Linked DNA regions of Homo sapiens. The protein of the gene in region 3 purifies or fractionates together with the protein of the main gene of each other region. This does not show direct contact. Each region holds a gene or a part of one and is shown on either strand. Other genes may lie near its edges.

What was found.
Region 1: the proteins of LIN7C (region 3) and ARHGEF26 purify together in Homo sapiens (affinity purification with mass spectrometry; 5 studies listed by BioGRID and IntAct, with this or other methods). This does not show direct contact.
Region 2: the proteins of LIN7C (region 3) and ABLIM1 purify together in Homo sapiens (affinity purification with mass spectrometry; 4 studies listed by BioGRID and IntAct, with this or other methods). This does not show direct contact.

The regions. Positions count from the first base shown.
Region 1 is NC_000003.12:154,187,362-154,194,389, reverse strand, and holds part of ARHGEF26 (rho guanine nucleotide exchange factor 26), read right to left. Parts: intron 6,706-7,028; coding exon 6,553-6,705; intron 3,102-6,552; coding exon 2,972-3,101; intron 1-2,971. UniProt on the Homo sapiens protein: Activates RhoG GTPase by promoting the exchange of GDP by GTP. Required for the formation of membrane ruffles during macropinocytosis. Required for the formation of cup-like structures during trans-endothelial migration of leukocytes.
Region 2 is NC_000010.11:114,438,276-114,445,303, forward strand, and holds part of ABLIM1 (actin-binding LIM protein 1), read right to left. Parts: intron 5,860-7,028; coding exon 5,754-5,859; intron 3,512-5,753; coding exon 3,447-3,511; intron 2,803-3,446; coding exon 2,742-2,802; intron 1,815-2,741; coding exon 1,807-1,814; intron 976-1,806; coding exon 901-975; intron 1-900. UniProt on the Homo sapiens protein: May act as scaffold protein. May play a role in the development of the retina. Has been suggested to play a role in axon guidance.
Region 3 is NC_000011.10:27,496,756-27,503,783, reverse strand, and holds part of LIN7C (protein lin-7 homolog C), read left to right. Parts: intron 1-1,863; coding exon 1,864-1,982; intron 1,983-2,217; coding exon 2,218-2,289; intron 2,290-4,215; coding exon 4,216-4,425; intron 4,426-4,979; coding exon 4,980-5,135; 3' UTR 5,136-7,028. UniProt on the Homo sapiens protein: Plays a role in establishing and maintaining the asymmetric distribution of channels and receptors at the plasma membrane of polarized cells.

The DNA.
Region 1 (7,028 bases), on a different chromosome or scaffold from region 3:
GCCCTTACTAGTTATCAAATCTTGAGCAAGTCACTAACTCTATCTTTATAAGCCTCTCTTTCCTCATCTGTAAAACTGGGGTGATGCCAGCTACATCACAAGGTTGTTAGAAGTGTTAATGATAATTTATGTAAAGTTCTTTATTAGTGCCTGGCATAGGGTATGCCCTCAATAAATAAGAGTTACTTTAATTATCACCATTATAATCATTATTATTAGAGGCAATTATATTTATAGATGATACATTTTGAATAAAAAGAACAGCCAGGCACAGTGGCTCATGTCTGTAATCCCAGCACTTTGGAAAGCCAAGGCAGGCAGAATACTTGAGTCCAGGAGCCAGGGCAATATGGAAAAACCCCATCTCTACAAAAATACTAAAAGAAAATTAGCCAGGCATGGTGGTGTGCACCTGTGGTCCCAGCTACTCAGGAGGCTAAGGTGGGAGGGTCACTTGAGCCTGGGAGGTGGAGGTTGCAGCGAGCCGAGATCGCACCATTGCACTCCTGGGTGACAGCATCTCAAAGAAAAAACAGTCAAAAAAAAACCCAAAAAAACCAGCAAAGGAAAAAAAGCCTGCTAGGTTTTCTGTTGATATATTTATACTGAGAAATTTCATTTGTGATAGGAAAATCAGGTCAAACAGGGTCAATTCACGGTAAATTTAATTACATATAACTTTAAAGCTATACACACACATTCAAAGCCCAGGGAACCACTTTAATTACTGAAAGTGTTTATTTTAATGAACAAGCTTAACTGAATTTCCAAATGAGGTAAAATTGAAGAGACACTATTTTAAATACATTTACATTCTGCCTAAATGGCCAGATTTCCACACATGAGAAACAGATTAGAGCAACAGGCATCAGGCAGAGGTAGAAAGTAGTTGGCTACTAGCAAGTCACTGGTCCCTTAAATGTACAGAAGCACCAAGCCAAGCCATCTGAAAGTCAGGCATCAAGATTTTTAACTATCTGCTATGTGAGAAACACAGAGTGCACCATCTGTGGAGGTTCTTATATTTTTTGACTATGACTCACTGTAAGAAATACTTTTACACTGCAACCAGCACACATGCACACATAAATGAACCAGGATTTTATGAAACAATATTTAACCACTTTATGAGCAACGTACATATGCTCATAATTCAAAAATCAGTTTTATGGCCCACTAATGGGTATGAAAGCAGCATGAAAAATACTGGTTTATGTCCCTGAGAGCAGGCATCCTTAGCTGGATTCCATATATTGATATTTTATGTAAAATTTTGTGCATACACATATTCTCTGGGAAGAAAAGCTATAGCTTTACTCAGAATCTCAAGGGGGGGTCTGTGGCTTAAAAAAAGTTTAAAGCCTACTGAGCAATCATGGCATGAATCTCCAACACTGTATAACATAATGTGTTAGATTTTAGAGTCCCATTCCATACAAGTAATTTTCTCAAATTTAAAGAGGATATAAAAGGCTTGGCCATCACAGCATATATAAAATCTGGAAAACATGTTTAAAATGCATTTTATTTATTTTTGTTCTTTTATTTCAATTCTCAAAGAGGAATAAAATGCATTTTCAGAAGAAGAAAACCCTGAAAATTCAAAAGTCTAATATTACAAGAAATGTTGTATTTACAAGGCATTCACTTCTTGCTTAAAAAAATAGTCATGTTTGAAATAATACTTCCTTATATGGACCAAAGTTTCCTTCTTAAGCAAAAATTCGATTCTGATAACTTAGCCACATTCTATCTTTAAACATGATAAATACTGATCTCAAAAAAAAATCAGAAAGTGAAATGTTCAAAACTGCAAGCTTCCCAATATGTACACAGGGGGGAAGTTCCTGAATTACAGGTGATGGGTGGAGAAGGTGTAAAGGCAGTAGATCGAAGTAAACTTGAGGAGCACAAGGTGCTATGAATCCTGAAATACCTGACAAAACGTCTCCAAAACTGCAGCAGTCAGCTAAATGCTCATGATTCCATGCTTTTACACATTTCAAAATTTCAGCATTTTTAAAGAATGTATTTTAGAATTTACAATGGGATACAGAATGTGAAATTTACTTTGTAACCTTAATCATAATTTTTAATATATATTTTACTTTGTTTTGATTAGTCAAAATCAGGTATGTAAAAAGTTGACCTTATATCAACATTATGATCCAATTTTAAAGTAGGAAAATCATAACAAAATATTTTCTAATTAGATCAAAAAGACACTCTGTGATCCACTGCTAGAATGGCACCTGTGTCGAGCCACCCCACTTTTCTCTTTTGCTGCCCCAGCAGCTCCAGTGCAGCCAGTGGCAGGCTCTCCTGCCCATAGCCTACCTGTCTTTCCAGCTGCACGTACTACTAGGCAGACTCTACTCACTTTTCCCAGTCATGTCTTGCCGTGATTCAAAGTCAAAAACACTTGCTTTCCTCATGAATGCTGCCTAACACAAGAAGGAAGCTGGGCTTTCCTCACTCACTTCGCACAATGCATAATACAGGCAGTACTATGCCTTGTCATGCTGAAGAGACTCTCATTCCTGTATGAAATGGAAGGCCCAGGGCACCTTGGAACATTATAGATGAAGGGATCTCAGTGATCAGTCTGAGGAATCTTAGGCCCAAAGAGACTGAGTTGCTCAAGGTCACATGCCTAATGGCTTAGCTAGAATTGGAATCCAGGCCTCCTGACATAAAGAAGCCACAACTCTTCCTATTTCAAAAAATGCTGAGTAAGTGGGTGATGAGATCCAATTTCTTCAGAATGACCATAGAAGCCTAAATGAAAGATAATTTCCAGAGATATCAGATACAGGTGAGACTTTCTGAACAAACAACACCTTCTCACTTAATTGGGGGATTTTTAGACCTTTAAATATGCATCAATTTAAGTGGAATAATAATAATTTTCTAAATCAGATTTAGAGAAGCACAGCTATCCACAGAGGAAAAAGCCACCGTCATGTCTTACATCCATCAGCAGGGGAAGGCGGGTCACCCTCTGCATGGGGAGAATGAGAAAAGAGATCATGGGTAAGTTCCTACAGTCTTCATGGGACTCAATCCTTGACAATACTTCCTTAAAGGATGGATTGGTAGCTCTGAGGGAAAACAAAGAAAAGAGAAACTTCAAAATATTTCCTCCTCAAATTAAGCAGCAAGTAAAAATGTATTACAAAATACTGTGATAAATCCATATAGCATCAACTATTTTAAACTGTATGAAAATATCATAAGCACATAATTACACTGGCAAATACGAATGGCTTGTCTGCCTTTTATATTCAAGGCTGAATATAATAAGATGTGGATTTCACATAACAGTATTAACAATAAGGCAAAACATGTAGGAGCTAGAAATTTATACAAGTGGAAGGTAAGCAAATGAAGAAGCTGTGGTATCATAATGGTGAATATATGGGTCATAAATCAGTATACAGACTAGGTCTTTTATATCCGATCATCTATAAACATATATCATTAATAAGATCATAAATAATATGTTTTAAGCCACTTCTCCAGCCCTAGACAATGGCATAAGAAATTAACAGTTAGACTGGACTTCAGAGGCTTTAGGCCACAAAGATCCTCTTTCTGAGACAGAAAACCTTTTCATCACATCAGTCGAAATATTCCTCTTTTTCTCCTGTTAATGCAAGAAAAGTATTAATGCTGCTATAACATTTTAATGAAACTTAGCGAGATACTGTGACATACATTCTTTCATGTGGAACCACCTACGTAACTTTTAAGGAAGGCCAGATAGGGATTCCAGTAAGAAAATGGAATGCAGAAAGGTCCCTACCTCACCAAGTAAATATGACTTAGTAACTGCCAAAGACAGAAGTCAAACCCAGGTTTGTTTGTTTGTTTGTTTGTTTTGAGATGGAGTCTTGCTCTATCACCTAGGCTGGAGTGCAATGGCACAATCTCGGCTCACTGCAGCCTCTGCCTCCCAGGTTCAAGCAATTCTATGCCTCAGCCTCACAAGTAACTGGGATTACAGGTGTGTGCCATGACGCCCAGCTAATTTTTGTATCTTTAGTAGAGAAAAGGTTTCATGTTGGCCAGGGTAGTCTCGAACTCCTGGCCTCAAGTAATCCACCTGCCTCGGCCTCCCAAAGTGGTGGGATTACAGGCGTGAGCCACTGTGCCTGGCCTCAAACCCAAGTTTTCTAATGTTAAATCTGACACTCTTGTCCCCCCATTTCTCACTCTCTTACCTCACTTCATCCCATGAGGAGCTCTGTAGAGTTCCACTGCCACTTTCCAAGGCAAGGAGGGTAGGAGGTAGATGGATATTGTACTCCCATGAAGGGAGAAGGAAGCAGGATAGTGACAATAGCAGTCATTTTTTTTAAAAAAAATGTTATTTTGAAAATTAAATAATCTTGTTCAAGGCTGCTACTAAAAGCAGGGAGGGGGAGAATGCCAGAATAGCAAATGAAAAGAAATTATACAGAAACAATTCATTTCCATTTTCTCTAATTGAGAAGTTTTAAGTTTCCTTTTACTGATAGCTTTGACAAGATTTTTAGAAAGTTAAAAAAAAAAAACAAAAACCTCTAAATTAGTTGTATATTTAAATAACTCAGGTCCCAGTCCCCTCCCTCACCTTCCAAAGGTTCTGATTAAATAGTCTGGGATGGACTCTGGACAGTGTACATTTGCTCATTTTCAGGCCCCAAGGCATTTCTAACATGCAGCTAGAATTGAAAGCCACTGTTCTAACCTTAAATTCACATAAACTGCGGGCTGGGCGCAGTGGCTTACGCGTGTAATCCCAGCACTTTGGGAGGCAGAGACAGGTGGATCACGAGGTCAGGAGATCAAGACCATCCTGGCTAATACGGTGAAACCCAGTCTCTACTAAAAATACAAAAAATTAACTGGGTGTGGTGGCATGCACTTGTAGTCCCAGCTACACGGGAGGCTGAGGCAGGAGAATCGCTTGAACCTGGGATGCAGAAGTTGCAGTGACCCAAGATTGCGCCACTGCACTCCAGCCTGGGTGACAGAGTGAGACTCCATCTCAAAAAAAAAAAAAAAAAAAAATCACATCAACTGCAACAAATCCCCTGAAAACACTACTAATTGCCACGTGAAAGTGCTGATGATGTTATCATTAAGCTAATTTAGATAAAACCTTTAAGAGTCACATGATGTATAGCAGTACCTAGTGACATTTTTTAAATCCTGCAAAACAAAATGAAACCCAAATTTATCTCTAATTCAAGGCTTTGTTTTCAGACATGAACTTGCATTCTCTAACAGTTACAGAGAACCTCTGTTCCTATAGCAGCGGTTCCCACCAGGGCGTGGTGGAGTGAGGAAGTGATGGGTGTGGTTTTACCCTCAGGGGACCTTCTGCAATGTCTGGGGAGATTTTTGGCATCTAGCAGATGGAAGCCAGGGATGCCCTTAAGCATCTTAAAATGCATAGGACAGCCCACCACAAAGACTTATCCAGTCCAAAATGTCAATTGTGCGAACAAACCCTGCTTTATACTAAAAATCTCATTGGGGTTAGCAGCTGTGTGTTTTCCACCCTGGCTATATGAAAATGTCATGAAGATGTGGAGGAAAAAGGGGGCCATCATCAGCCCTTCTCATCAGCTTAGAGGCTTTGACTATTTCTCCAAGCAGCCATAAGTTAGTCATCCTCAACCCCTACTCCTCCATAGGGGTCTCACATATTGCACAGAAGTTGACCGAAGCTCCATGCCGTGGTCATAAATGCCACAACTCACAGGAGGGGGTGAGAACGATAACAGCCATTAAGCTCCCAAACTGGGTTTACAGCAGTGCACAACTGTGCTGTAAAACAGCTACTTGTGATAAACAGGACTCTTTAAAATACATATAGGCATTACTGAACAATTGGTGACTCTTTTAAGGACACAGATGGCATATGCATCACATCAAAACTCTCAGTAACCTAAAAAGGACAAAAAGAAAAGATGTGGCAGGAAATCTAATGCTTAACTCTTTTGCTGCATAACTGAAATCTTTAAGAACATTACTTTTTTCTACTGCTTTCCTTCAGAACTTCCCTCCTCTCTTCAACTCTAACTACCCAAGTGGGGGGAATAATCAGCAATTTTTATGAACAATTTATTATCGTTGTCAATTGAATGGAGGGAGATCAGAATAGTAGAGAAAACTCTGAATCTTAGCTTTTAGCTCAATCAACTCAAGAATCCCCTCTAAGCCTCAGGAAAACCACTTAATTGCCAGTAAAAAGCTTAGAAAACTGCGGGTTTAGAGTGAGGACCACCTCTGTTTCCTGCAACAATTAAAAACAACGAAACACTAAACAAGGACATCAATAACAAGCTATAATTTCGTAAGAGAGAAAATTCTCTACACACTAGATTTTTCTACTTAAACACCCTCACCCTAAAAGTAATGCTCTTAAACATTTCTCCTCTGGGAAATAGCCTATCAGGAGGCATTTCTAAATATAATTCAAAAGATCAATTAATTTCAGTCAATGTAGCCTAATTAAAACTAGGTTAGATGATTAAAACTGTAGCATTCGACATTGCTTACAACAATTTTTGTAGTGTTCGTTGTTGGTAGACTTCATTTGTGCAGTATTTCACATATGGGTCAAATGTGGATGCTGTGTGTTTTTCCACAATGTCACTTATGTCATCTATGAAGATATTATTCTGATGTCTTGCTTCCAACTCTATAAAGAACCTGAAAAACCAAAGGGAAAAAAAAATTAACACTTCTTTCATACACTCTAACAGATAACAGATTAGCCTCATGTAATGTTATTACACGGGGTTTGAAAATTCAACAGTACACAGTACCAACTAAAAAATATTTTTAAAATCTATAAAAATTTTATCTAAGTTTAAATCTATCATATTAACACCTCCTTGAGGATGAGCATTGTGGCTCACGCCTATAATCTCAGCACTTTGGGAGGCTGAGGCAGGAAGATCACTTGAGGCCAGGAGTTCAAGACAAGACAAAACCAAAAAAAAAAAAAAAAAAATCAAGTTATTGCTTCAAGT
Region 2 (7,028 bases), on a different chromosome or scaffold from region 3:
TTTGTAGACAGGGCTTGCTCTGTTGCCCAGGCTGGATGCAGTGGTGTGATCACAGCTCACTGTAGCCTCAACCTATCAGGCCCAGGTGACCCTCCTATCTTACCCTCCCGAGTAGCTGGGACTATAGGCACATGTCGTCATGCCAAGCAATTTTTTTTAAGTTTTAGTAGAGATGGGATTTTGCCATGTTGCTCAGGCTGGTCTTAAATTCCTGAACTCAAGCCATCTACCCGCCTTGGCCTTCCAAAGTGCTTGGATTACAGGCGTAAGCCACTGTGCCCAGCCAATGTGTTACCTTTTATAGGATGCTGTTATAGGGCAGGGTGCATTTGTGCTGGGGTTAACAATCTTGTCCCATGACTAGCTCATGAATCTATGGGGCCAGGCAGGCCCAGAAGCAGTGCTCTGGCAACTGCCATATTGAAATAAGCCCTGGTTATGGTCACCAGGGAGCATGAGCCCTTGGACAACTCTGAAGGTACAGGGTGCTCTGGAGCTAGGGTGGCCAGTCACCCCAGTGTACCCAGGACTGAGGTTCTTGAAATGCAGGGCTTTCAATGGTGAAACAGGGTTGCCTCACCTACATGGTGAGTCTGCAGCCACTCCACTCAGCACCGGATATGCTCTGTAATGCACATGGCAGAGGCCAAGGGAATACCTTGGTCATAGGCAGAGAGGGACTGGCACCTCACTGTAAACACACAGCATCATGCCCAGTAAGGGTTTAACCTGCTGACCTGATGTGGGCAAAACAGCAGAATGGCAAGGTGCATATTCATGACATGGCTCACCTGAACACACCAGCCTACAACACTTTGAGAATGATGAAAAGATAGAACATCAAATCTGTTTAGGGTTACGCCATTCCCATATGAGAGGAAAAAGAACAGCTGCACTTGCCTTTGGTTCCAACATGTTGGGCATAGACACTCCTCGGTCCATTCTCATTGCAGGCATGTGGCCATCTGGGAGTGTCTGCAACAGAAATGCCAGTTCCAGGTGAGGCATGAAATAGTCTAGGAAACTGAAGGGAGTACTCTTGGGCTCCCAATTCCCTGTTGGGTCTCCAATCCTAACCACTATTTTATTTGTGTCATCTAAATGACCATGTATTTTTCAAAATGAGATCCTTGCTGTATAGGAACAGGAATACAGCTCTTTTGCAATCAAGTTGGGGAGAGATCTTGGCTTGATGGTTATGGACAAATTCCTGAATTAGGCTCCATGAATGAAAGCATATAGTACATTTAAAAGATGCCCAAGTCTATTATTGTTAGTTTCTTATCTTTAATCATGATTTTCTATGCATTTTTCTTCTTTTCTTATTCTCCATCACATTTCTTTCTTTCTTTTTTTAACAAGATTGAGGTTCTAGTGAGAAAGGAATGTCATGAGGGCAAACTGCTCTCTCCTATTGGCTAAGACATCAGTGTCTTTTCATTTGAGAACGCGCAGGAAAAGGGTGGCCTAAAGTACTGAGAGATTATAATTAAAAGAAGAAAAACTGTATATGAGCAGACCCTTGATGCTGGTCCACTTCCACCCCAGAGAGGACTCTCCAAGGCCAAAGCAAGAGAGACCCCCTACACCTGGCCTGGTTCATGCAGTGTCCCCAAGGCCTGCAGGGACAGCTTGACCCAGGCACCAGGCATGTCTGCTCTTCACGGCTATAGAGTAATGACTAGAGAGATCAACCACAACAAGCATCTTCTCAACAGAAACTGTTGCCTTGGAGCCAGCAGTCTGGGTTGGAACATGGCTGTTCTATCGGTGTGGCCAATTCAAGAAAGACAAAGTGTTCCATACCTGGTAATCTGAAAAGGAAAGGAAAAGAAAATATCATAAGGGAAAGACCATGGAAAAGCAAGGAACCATTCACAGACTATATTATATTGAAATTCCCAACATATTCGCCCTATAAACCATGTTCTTTTTCTGCTCCCAGACTCTGCACATGTTATCCCATCAGCCTCCCTGAAGCCAAGAAATGCCTGGTCCAGTGTTAGTTAACAGTTAAAACATTTTCCCCTGGAAGCTTTCGCTGACAACCTAAAGGTACTTACTGCTTCCTTCTCTGCATCTCTGATCCCAATGTTCATCACACAGACCTTCTTTCTGCCATATGCATTTTGAGGGCAGGGGCCATGTCTCACTTATTGTTGTACCTCCAGTTACTTTTTTTTTTTTTAAGAGACAGTCTTGCTCCGTCACCCAGGCTGGAGTGCAGTGGCATGAACATAGCTCACTGCAGCCTTGAACTCCTGGGCTTAAGCAATTCTCCTGCCTCAGCCTCCCAAGTAGCTGGGACTACAGGCATGTGCCACCAGCTAATTATTATAATTTGTTGTTGTTGTTTTTGTTGTTGTTGGTAGAGACAGGCCCACTTTGTTGCCCAACCTAGTCTAGAACTCCTGGCTTCAAGTAATCCTTCCGCCTCAGCCTCCCAAAGTGTTGGGATTGCAGGCATGAGCCACCATGCCTGGCCTCTAGGTATCTGATAGAGTGCTCAGCACATAGTATGAGCAATGAATAAATTCTCACAAACTCACTTCTTACAGTTTGATTTCATTAGATATTCTTTGAAATTTTGTAAATAATTGCCCTATTAGCTCACAGAAGACAGATGTGATCCTACTCTAAGGATACAATACAGCATGAACACAGCCAGTATACTTGACTCTCATGAACCTCAGCCTCGAGGGAAGACGTGGCCATGCTCAGCCTGGCCATGGGAGCCTCACCTCGCACTCCCCCGCTGACATCCCCATAGCTGTTATACTGAGCGAAGTCGGTAGAAACAGGCTGAAATGAGGAAAAACAATTATTAGGAAATCTCCATAGTGATCGTTTTGGAGTCAGGTGAAAAGGAAGAAAGAGTTTACAAAATCCTAGGAATTCTTCCCAAGCTAAATGTCAGACCTTCATTTTTTTTTTCCCTATGATTCTTCTACTGCTATGCCATCTCTTTGTCTTTTTTAGTGTACTAATGCCACCACTCAGCAGGCTCTTGGTAAGCAGGGATCTCTTGCTGATAAATAAAAATGCATTGTCCTACATAGTTACATAATTGTATTTGTTCCATCTTTTGTGAGGAGGATGGTTATAACACACATTCTTATATCTTTTTACAGCAAAGATAATGGTTCAAGTAATTACTTTTTGTTTCATTGTAAAAAATATTTGCCATACAGTTTTGCAATTTAGTTTTCCCATAATCATACACAAGCCATTCTTTTATCTAAAGTTAATTTCTTCTTCTCTCAATAGAAACATTTTATTTTGCCTGTAACTCAAATTAATTTACTAGGCAACCAGGGAGGTTAAAATTTTCATTATGTTCCAACACTGAGATCAAGAGTCAGACGTATTCAGGCAATGTGTCAATACTTCAACCAGGGCCGAGGTGGGAGTAAAGGCAGAAACAATGAATCGGGGAGAAATCTTACCCGGTGAAGCCCATTTCTTCCATAGCCAGGGAGAGATGCAGTTTTAGATGATGGAATATGTGAAGCTGAGTAAGAAAAAAGTAAAAAACCAATTGTTAGGAAATCAGAAGGTCCAATCCTTTAATGAAATTGGCAGTATCTTCTACCTCACAGGATAGAAATACCAAAAAAATTCAAATCATATTGGGCTCAAATGTTCAAAAATATGCCATCATATTTGCAAGGAGTGGGTGGACAGTGATATGACTGAGGAGGGAAGGGAAAGTCAAGTCCACGCGGTTGAGTGGGGGCTGAAGCTGGCTGTGCTTCCTATAGCTCTGGCATGGAGCTAAGTGTTCAGCATGCTTTATTTCTTTGAATCTTCAATATAACCCTAATAACACTATGATTATTAGTTCCATATTACAGAAGGAGAAATAGGGGCTAAGAAAAATATCCTGCCAACAGTTACTAAGCTTCTAAACAGCTGAGCAAGGATGTAAATCAGGGATATCTGAATACATTAGCCCATGCCCCAGTTGATAAGGCAGCAGTAACTGAACTGGAAGCCAACCCTGTATGTTATCAAGATCTACCAGCCATCTACAGCTGGCCTCCTGGGAGGCCTGATACAGGGTATCTGTCAATGATATGGAAGCCTGATAAGCTGCTGGGCTTGAGAGGGAGCAGCCCTGGGCTTGAATTCTGGTTCTGCAACTTAATACCTCTGTATCTCCGGACATGGTGTTTAATCTTTCTGAAGTCCTCATTTCTTCATCTATGCAGGTACAATGTTATACATTCTTATAGAGCAGAATCTCAGAATTCCAAGGAACTCTAAAGATTTGTAAACCACCGAATCCAAGATCAATGCCAGTGAGGCATCTATGAAGGGTAGCGGGAATTCCAGGTAAGGGTGTGGGCTCCGGGGTTATAATATGTGGACTTCTAAATCCTAGTCTTGCTAGTTATTGGCGTATCACGCTGGGTATGTTAACTCAATTTCTATACCAGCCTCCTGATTTCTAAAATAGAGATGAAAATGCTGCAGTTGCTAATAACAACCACATCTACTTCACTGGCATGTTGTGAACATTAAATAAAATGTTTAGCAAAAATGCTTGCATGGAGTGAACATTAAATGCATTTTTTTTTTTTGAGACAGAGTCTCACTCTCACCCAGGCTGGAGTGCAGTGGCGCAATCTTGGCTCAATGTAAGCTCAGCTTTCTGGGTTCACGCCATTCTCCTGCCTCAGCCTCCCGAGTAGCCGGGACTGCAGGAGCCCGCCACCACACCTGGCTGATTTTTGTATTTTTTAGTAGAGACGGGGTTTCACTGTGTTAGCCAGGATGGTCTCGATCTCCTGACCTTGTGATCTGCCCGCCTTGGTCTCCCCACTAAATGCATTTTTAAAGGAACTCTTAGAGGAGAAAATTATGCTCTAGCTCAGAATATGAGAGAAGAAATCTTGTGGTTTAAGAGAGAATTGGCTTATGACAAATAGATACAGGGGAAAATACACTGATAGGCTATTTCAGCCCAGTGTATAAGTCATCTTCTTCAAAAGTATCAAAAACACTGTTCATCCTCAGTTCTTGTATTGAAGATTTTTTTTCTTTTTTTTTTTGAGATGGAGTTTCACTCTTGTCGCCCAGGCTGGAGTGCAATGGTGTGATCTCAGCTCACTGCAACCTCCACCTCCCAGGTTCAAGTGATTCTCCTGCCTCAGCCTCCCGAGTAGCTGGGATTACAGGAGCCCACCACCACGCCTGGCTAATGTCTGTATTTTTAGTATAGATGGGGTTTCGCCACGTTGACCAGGCTGGTCTCAAACTCCTGACCTCAGGTGATCCGCCTGCCTTGGCCTCCCAAAGTGCTGGGATTACAGGCATGAGCCACCGCACCCGGCCTCTATTGAAGATATTAATGTAAAATCATAATGCTTAGAAAATGTCTTATTCATGTTATCTAAAAAAAAAAAAAAAAAAAAAGAAGAAGAAGAAAAGCATCATGTTTTTTAGAGGATTTCCTTTTGCTGCTTCCCTTGGAGATGAGTGTTCTAGAAGACAAACCTAGTATATGGGGATTGGCCTTCATGGATTTTGAGAACCTCCAAGGGTTCACCCATTTCCAGAAGAAAGGAAACACACATTTATGGAAGACCCATGACATGCTTATGAGCTCATTTGACATGGAGTGGGTTTCCCACACTTCCTTTCCCGTGGAATACTCTGTAGGTTCCACCACAAGTGAACAGTCAAGGCAGGTGCCTTACAAGCAGGTGGCTGGCTCTCGAATCAGGGAAGGTTGGGGGTTTGCTGCTTACCTGAGTTGATGGGAGAATCGTAGCGACTGGCTAACAGAGATGACCTTTCCCGGCTCTCTTTCTCCATCTCTTCTTTCAAGATCAACTGTCCCAGGCCTGAGTTAAGCTATTCACAGAAAAAAGGAAAAAAAAAAAAAAAAGAAAGCAAAGCTTGCAATTACTTTCATGGAGCTGCAGTTTCTTTGTAGCAGATCCCACAAGAAGTTTCTCTTGCTGGAGGGCCTGAATGCATGTGGCCCCAGAGCCTGGTAGTTCCTGAAGAGGTAGGTCAAGTTTGGGACCCTAAACCCTCTTAGCCCTTTCAGTTTCAAAGCTCCATTTCCCTAAGTCAGGCTCTGTGTTAGAAGAACGTTTTCCTTCCTCTGCTTTCCCTAAAGAGCCAGGAGACCTCAGAAGGCATGTGTGAGTGTGTGTGGATTTTTGATGTGGGAAGGGAAGACTGGGGCTGGTATCCTTTAAAAAGAAATTGCCTTGATTTGTTTAAAAACAAGAAATAAAGGTAATACATGCTAATTTTACAGATTTTGGAAAATCTAGAAGAAAAGAAGAGTAACCCATAATATGTCACTCAGAAATAACACTATCTTTTGATTTATATCTATCTAGTATTTTTGTATACACACATATAAAACTGAGATCATACTATAAATGCAACTTTGTATCCTTTGACTAATATCACGTGCATTTCCTATATGCTTAGAAAACATCATTTGAAAGGATTCAGCAGCCTCTTGACTGATAACAGACTGTCCTTCTGGGCTGCTGCAGGCCCTTGCTACAGGAAGGAGGGTATGAAGAGGACCCCTTCATGGTGGCCATTCCTTTCATTCCTTTTCTCCTGGCCCACATCCTGGGAAAAGACTTGGAGAAATGTTCAATCCCACAGTCATTCCTTCAGCAGAACTGCATGAGGGAAGGAAGGTGTGGCACTACCTGGGTGGATACCACCTTGCTCTGCCTGGCCCTCCAGCAGCCTTTCAACACATGCACTGCACACATGCCCCCATGTGGTCTCTCTTTCCTTCCCACAACAACCCAAACCTTCCACACCCCTCTGACCTCCAGCACCAATGCCATCTCCTCTAGAGCCCAGCAGGTATTCTGCCATATTCTAGTTACTATTAACAGACACCTGTCTTGCCTTGCCTGCCAGATTTCAAGCCCCTTGAAGACTGGGACCACCTCTTGCCTATCTAGATGGTTTATACATAGTAGTCATTCAAAAAATATAGATCTTATGTAACTAGCATTGAAGACAGCAGCAAGGTAGTTTAA
Region 3 (7,028 bases):
TCCCAGCACCTTGGGAAGCTGAGGTGGGTGGATCATGAAGTCAGGAGTTTGAGGCCAGCCTGACCAACAGGGTGAAACCCTGTCTCTACTAAAAATACAAAAATTAGCCGAGCATGGTGGTGGACTCCTGTAATCCCAGCTACTCAGGAGGCTGAGGCAGGAGACTTGCTTGAACCTGGGAGGCAGAGGTTGCAGTGAGTGGAGATTGCGCCACTGCACTCCAGCCTGGGCAACAGAGTGAGACTCCATCTCAAATAAATAAATAAATATCTTTCTTTACTACATTTATTCATAGTTTTCTATCTGCAAACACGAAGAAGGCCATACTAACTCTATAAAGAAAAATTTCCAGTCCTTGAGTGTAACGAAATCAGGAACTTCTACTTAAGTCAAAAGGAAGCAAAGCAATAATAGAATACTGGGCATTGTAGTACCAGGGGTACAAAAACAGTATACCAAAACAGTTTTTGGAAAAATAAAAGTAGAGATAGTTAACAGTGTTATAGCTGACTTCCTGAATCTTCTAAAATGTCTCAATTCATAAAACACTTATCCTCACACTTCTCAGTGAGAATTCCCTAATGTGCTTCATACATTTGTATAAATGTATACAACCTCTTAGGGTTTTTTTTGTTTGTTTGTTTGTTTTTGTTTTGTTTGGTTTTTTGTAGATGGAGTTTCACTCTTGTCACCCAGGCTGGAGTGCAGTGGCACAATCTCAGCTCACTGCAACCTCCACCTCCTGGGATCAAGCGCTTCTCCTGCCTCGGCCTCCCAAGTAGCTGGGATTACAGGCACCCGCCACCATGCCTGGCTAATTTTTGTATTTTTTTTAGTAGAGTTGGGGTTTCACCATGTTGGCCAGGCTGGTCTTGAACTCTTGACCTCAGGTGATCCACCCGCCTCGGCCTCCCAAAGTGCTGGGATTACAGGCATAAGCCACTATTCCCAGCCAATATTTCTTATGATTAATTGGTACCAATGTAACATAACACTTTTGCTTGCTAAGCCCTTTTTTATGTATTTTGTGGTTCAGTTGTTAACTGAACTCATAACTCTTCCTCATAACCCTTATATGGAAGGTACTGTTATTTCCATTGTACAGTGAAAGAAACTGAGACATAAGGACATCATGTAACTTGCCCAAGGTCACACAGGTGGTATTGAGACCAGATTGATAAAGCTAATTGTTTTTATTTTTCTTTTTTGTAAACATAAGTGTTGGAGCTTGTTTGAATTAACAGTGTTAATTAAGTTGAAAAAAAATCAGTTTATTTCATTTGTACTGCTTGTTTTTTGCATTTTTATGGTTGTTTTAAATGTGTCCCTGCCACTAACTGCATCTGCTCTCGAGTGGTTATCTACCTATGTATCATGTTTCTTTCGAGGAATGACCAGTGATTTTACTAGCTTATAGTGCCTTGTACTGTTCAGTGCTTTGGTTACTAATAATAATTAGGTAAATTTTTATTGACTAGTTTCTGACAATATTGCTAGCTTTTCTGAAGCAGTACAATGTTCATGTATCGGTCACATTTGAGTCACAGTCCTTTCCGATGACATTTGGTATTTTGTGTTCAATTTGCCTGTGTTTCTCCAAGGTCTTATTTTATGCTTCTGTAATCTCAGTAGTTTTTCCTATCTACTGTAAAATTTAGTGTTCTTACATTTTACATTCTCACCCTCCATGTGTGTACACACACACAGTCTCCTTCCCACCAAATGTGCAAATTCAATGCTTTTTTTCCCCTCGATTGTCTGTATATTATTTGCCCTTGAGGAATGAATCCTAACTGCCCCACTGTTACATAGGCATTGAGAAAACCCTTGGAGAAAATTATCTGTGTGTGTGTTTAACTCTAGATATTTGTAGAGCAATTGAATTATTGGAAAAACTACAAAGGAGTGGAGAAGTACCACCACAGAAACTTCAGGCTTTGCAAAGAGTCCTTCAAAGTGAATTCTGCAATGCTGTGAGAGAGGTGAGTAAACATCATTAAAATTTACAAAAATTTGAGTTAATTAGGTCAGATAATACTCTAAATTTGGGTTCAACATTTCTTAAGAAAAACTTTAGAAAACATTAAAACCAGTCCCTCTCATTTTTGGAATTTCTGATAAAACCATTTTATAAAGATGCATAACTTTGCCTGAAATTTTAACTTCACAGAGAACTCAAGCATGGTATATTCTGAGATATAACTTTGGCTTTTACAGGTATATGAACATGTCTATGAGACTGTGGACATCAGTAGCAGTCCTGAAGTGAGAGCGAACGCTACTGCAAAGGTAAATTTTTTTGTTTTCCAAAAGTAAGAATTCTTCATAAATTAGAAGTTTAAAATATGGAGTTATTAAATTCATAATAAACTTACTTTGAAGACTAACATGTATCTTTCAAGCTACACCAAATTTCTCAAGTACTAAGAAATAAGACATTTGTTTCTATTGCCTTTACATAAATGCTGCATGATAAATAGCTTACATAAGCTATTTTATCATGCAGTTTAGATAATGCAATAGAAATGTACTTGCATACAATATGTATCATGCAATATATAATTGTGTTGTATATGTTATATATATGATACTATATAATATTCATTATACAAAATCTAATCAGAATTTTAAGATATGAATTACTATCCTCATCTTATTGATGAGGAAGCATGAGGTGATTTGCCGCAAACCACACAAATAGCATATGATAGAGCTGGGGTACTTCCCCGAGTTGATTTTTGCTTTCTTCTTTACATTATCTGCATTTCTGTGCCATTGTTTTCCTCAAATAATTTAGGTATTGACCTCACTATTCATGATAGGGGGTTTGAACAGGGTAATATCAGCAGTCGGTGACTTAAATTAATCATCAGCAGATAGTTTTTTATGGATAGTTACTGGCTCACAAAAGGAAATGGTGGATTCTTTGTTGAATACAAATACTTAAACATGTGGATATAGTTTATCAGTGTAGAAAAGACCAGAGAAACATGGTTTTAATTGCTGAGTTGTGTGAGTTTGATAGCCTACTGAATTTCTGAGCCTTAATTCCATTATCTGAAAAATGAGGCCTTTTTCAGAGCTTCGAAGATAACGGGTATTCAGTAAATCTTGATTTCTTCAAAGATAACGGGTGTTCAGTAAATCTTGATTTCTTTCCTCCTCCCCATTTTTGTGATCCATCACAAAAAAATGGTACTAGATAATTACCCTTTAAAGCAAAGTGAAACAAAATCTCAACTTTATAATTAGTTTGGATTAGTCTAAAGTTGAGCTTTAAAGAAGATACGGCTCTGTTTCATCTTCTGTGGGGATTTTTAGTTGTGTCTAGTTAACTAAAGCAACAAAACATTCAGATTGGCTATATGTACCTCTCTTTTTCTCAATATTGAGTTATTTCTTGACATCTTAGATATTTAGTATATAGTACAAATAGTACAGAAGCCAAAATGATTACATATAAGGGCAACTCCATGTTGATTATATAGGTAGGTTGTGTCCTGCACAAAGGCTCCTGAAGGAGTTGGGAGATCCAGATCTAAAGCCCAGGGCTGCTAGCATGCTGGGGAAGGGGTTTTCCTCCTTACCATGTACAATATCAGTCTGCCCAGTAAGTCTGCTTGCCAAGCCCTGCGCATACAGGACTGCACAAAAGAGTGGGCACTGAATGGGCTAGGAATGACCTAAAAAATCATAACAAAAAATCGTAACATTTCCTGCATAACTCGAAATTATTCATTTGTCGTCTCTAAAATACCTTCTGTTTAGCTTACCTTCTCAGAATCACCAGTGAATTTGTGAGCATTCAGACGTCAAAAATACGTGCTCAAAAGTAGTTTTTAAAAAGAGACAAAAGAGGCCAGGCGCAGTGGCTCACGCCTGTAATCCCAGCACTTTGGGAGGCCAAGGCGGGCGGATCACGAGGTCAGGAGATCGAGACCATCCTGGCTAATGTGGTGAAACCCCATCTCTACTAAAAAAAAATACAAAAAAATTAGCCGGGCGTGGTGGCAGGCGCCTGTAGTCTCAGCTACTCAGGAGGCTGAGGCAGGAGAATGGCGTGAAGCCAGGAGGTGGAGCTTGCAGTGAGCCAAGATCACGCCACTGCACTCCAGCCTGTGCGACAGAGCGAGACTCCATCTCGGGGGGAAACAAAAGATGAAAGAACTGAAGTAAATAAAAGTCATATTTTTAATATGTAAAACTTTCTTTCAGGCTACTGTTGCTGCATTTGCTGCCAGTGAAGGACATTCTCATCCTCGAGTTGTTGAGCTACCAAAAACAGAAGAGGGCCTTGGATTCAATATTATGGGAGGCAAAGAACAAAACTCTCCAATCTATATATCCCGAATAATTCCAGGTGGAATTGCTGATAGACATGGGGGCCTCAAACGTGGAGATCAACTCCTCTCTGTTAATGGAGTGGTAAGGATGAATTTTATTTCTATTTGTAGTGATCTGTTGTGACCACCTGGGGGCGTATTTGAGTAATAGGAGAAACCTAAGAAACTTGTGGTTTAGAAATGCCTTGAGGGAATCCTAGGCAGTACTATTAATACAGTGATCCTTTTTTTTAAGCACTATAAGTGTATTTTGCAGTGTAAATTAGCAGTGCTTAATGTCATTTTTATGACATAAGCTCTTTATTAAAGGCAATACATTAAATTAGAAGTCTACCCTCATTTTACTCTTATAAAATGCCAATTGCTTGATCTACTGAAATAATAAGGCATATAGATTAATATGCTAATTATTTGGAACTTAAAAGCCAGCTTTTAGACTATAAACAGAATATGATGTAAGAGAGGATTTCATATAGATTAAAATGGTAAGGCAGGATTATTTCTTAGTTTTGTAATGTTGGAATAATATAACATTAAAACTTTTCTTCATTATATATATTGTAAACATTTTTGCATTTTGAGTTACTTTCAAAACTTAGATATTAGTGTATGGTTGGTTGTTTTTTTTTCCCCTAGAGTGTTGAAGGAGAACATCATGAAAAAGCTGTAGAACTGCTGAAAGCCGCACAAGGAAAGGTTAAATTAGTGGTACGATACACACCCAAAGTCTTAGAAGAAATGGAGTCGCGCTTTGAAAAAATGAGATCAGCAAAACGCAGGCAACAGACCTAATACATTTCAAAACTTGATATTTCATTTTGCGTTTTAGCTAGAGAAGTTTTCCTTGTGACTTACTAATGGCTGCAATGCCAATGATTGTAAGAAAACAAACAAATTTATCATGAAATTCTCCTTGTCATTTTATAAATGCCTATTTTAACATCATTTATGGTTCCAGAGATGCATACACTTTTTTCTGACAAGAAAAAGTAAAAGGTGATGAGGGCAATTCTGTCCTACTGTTTTTACAGGCCTTTTTCAAATGCAGATTTTGTCATAAAGTTGTTATAGATTTTTTAAAATGCTTTTTTAATATTAAAATGTACTTTTACATTCTTAATCTTTTTTTAGAAAGGAAAAGTTTTCTTCATTTAGCTGCTGATTTAAAAGTAAAGTTCTCCAATTCTTTTTTTTTGCTTACTCTATTTTTTTTAACCTGTGAAATTTCTTTACAGTTTTCCAAGAAATTAAGCATAACAGTCTCATCTACGGCAGTTCATTACACTGTCAATGTTAACATCATTGCTGCATTTTGTACTTTGAACACACACATAATATATATAACCAGTGGTAAATCATGACTCAGTACAGTGCAAGTTTTTTCACTTTTACTTAAACATAATATATAATGGATATTCATTTATACTGATTTATGAAAGTAAGTTTTTAAACACTGAAACAATCATTGCTAAAATACATATTCTTAATATTTGAGCATTGAGGCAAGAGGATGTAATTGATAGCATTACTTATTACATCCCTATTTATGTTCAACCGTACATCAAATTATAAATGCAAAACAGGTTCAGATTTCATCTTTTGTGATTTCTTTTAAATACTATTCATTTTTATTTAAATGCACAGTATTTCCCCTATATTTTAGTCCTTCCATTCCTAGAGACAAACCAGTTATTTGGTGGTGGGAAGTAGCTGAAGCAAAGAAGGAAAAGTAATACCTTTAACCTCACTAGCTTCAAGAGTAGACATTCTTACTAGCTCAATTTAAATAATTGATTTTAAATAGGAAGAAAAGAGGATATATTTAAGATACATAGAAATTATGATGTGAAGTATTCATGAGAATCTGTAGATTCCATCAAAATAAGTAGGAACTCATACTAAAATTGTTGGATTTAAAGAGGCAACTTTTGTTTATGATTCAAATATGGGAATTTGAGAAATATTTCATTTGTCCACTGGATGTCACTATTTTACTAAAAGGCAGCTATTAGTGTGGGACTGTGACTGAGGTCTTAAAGACTGAAAGAGTTGGGGTTCATTTTCTGTTACAACTTACAGGAACATTTGTACTTTAAGAAAAATTTAAGTGACAAATGTTAGAAGATGATGGATTGAAAAATATAAGTAATTTGGCATATTGACCCTATATAAAAAAGTGGGCATTTTGTAACATTCCTTCAGGAAGAATAGAATTGTATGCTTTTTTCTGCATGTTTGTGATCACTGTGAGTCTCAGATGATTATTCCAGTTTTCAATGATTTTTCAAAATAAAAGTCAATCAGCATTGTTATTTATCATTAAGGTATTGAACACTGGATTGCATGGTTGAATGTGTCTTTAATCCACTACAAAATGTGCTTGTTATTGATAGGATCATGTTGTTAAATTGTAAATTTTCAAAATTAATTGATGTTTTAAAAATGTTGAGACCAAAGTAGTATAGAAGTATGGACTTAATTTAATTGTAAAATTATTAGAGGTATTTGTTGTAGAGCTTTATATATTAAAGAGAGGTATTGGTGCATATAAAAACAGTAATATTATTGTTATGCTTGTATTCTTGCATTTCAGGGTAAGTAAACCCTGAAGAAATCTTATTTTAGTATAGCTACAGCTGCAGTAGCTTTTAAGTATGTATCAACATTTCATTATAAATTATAGCT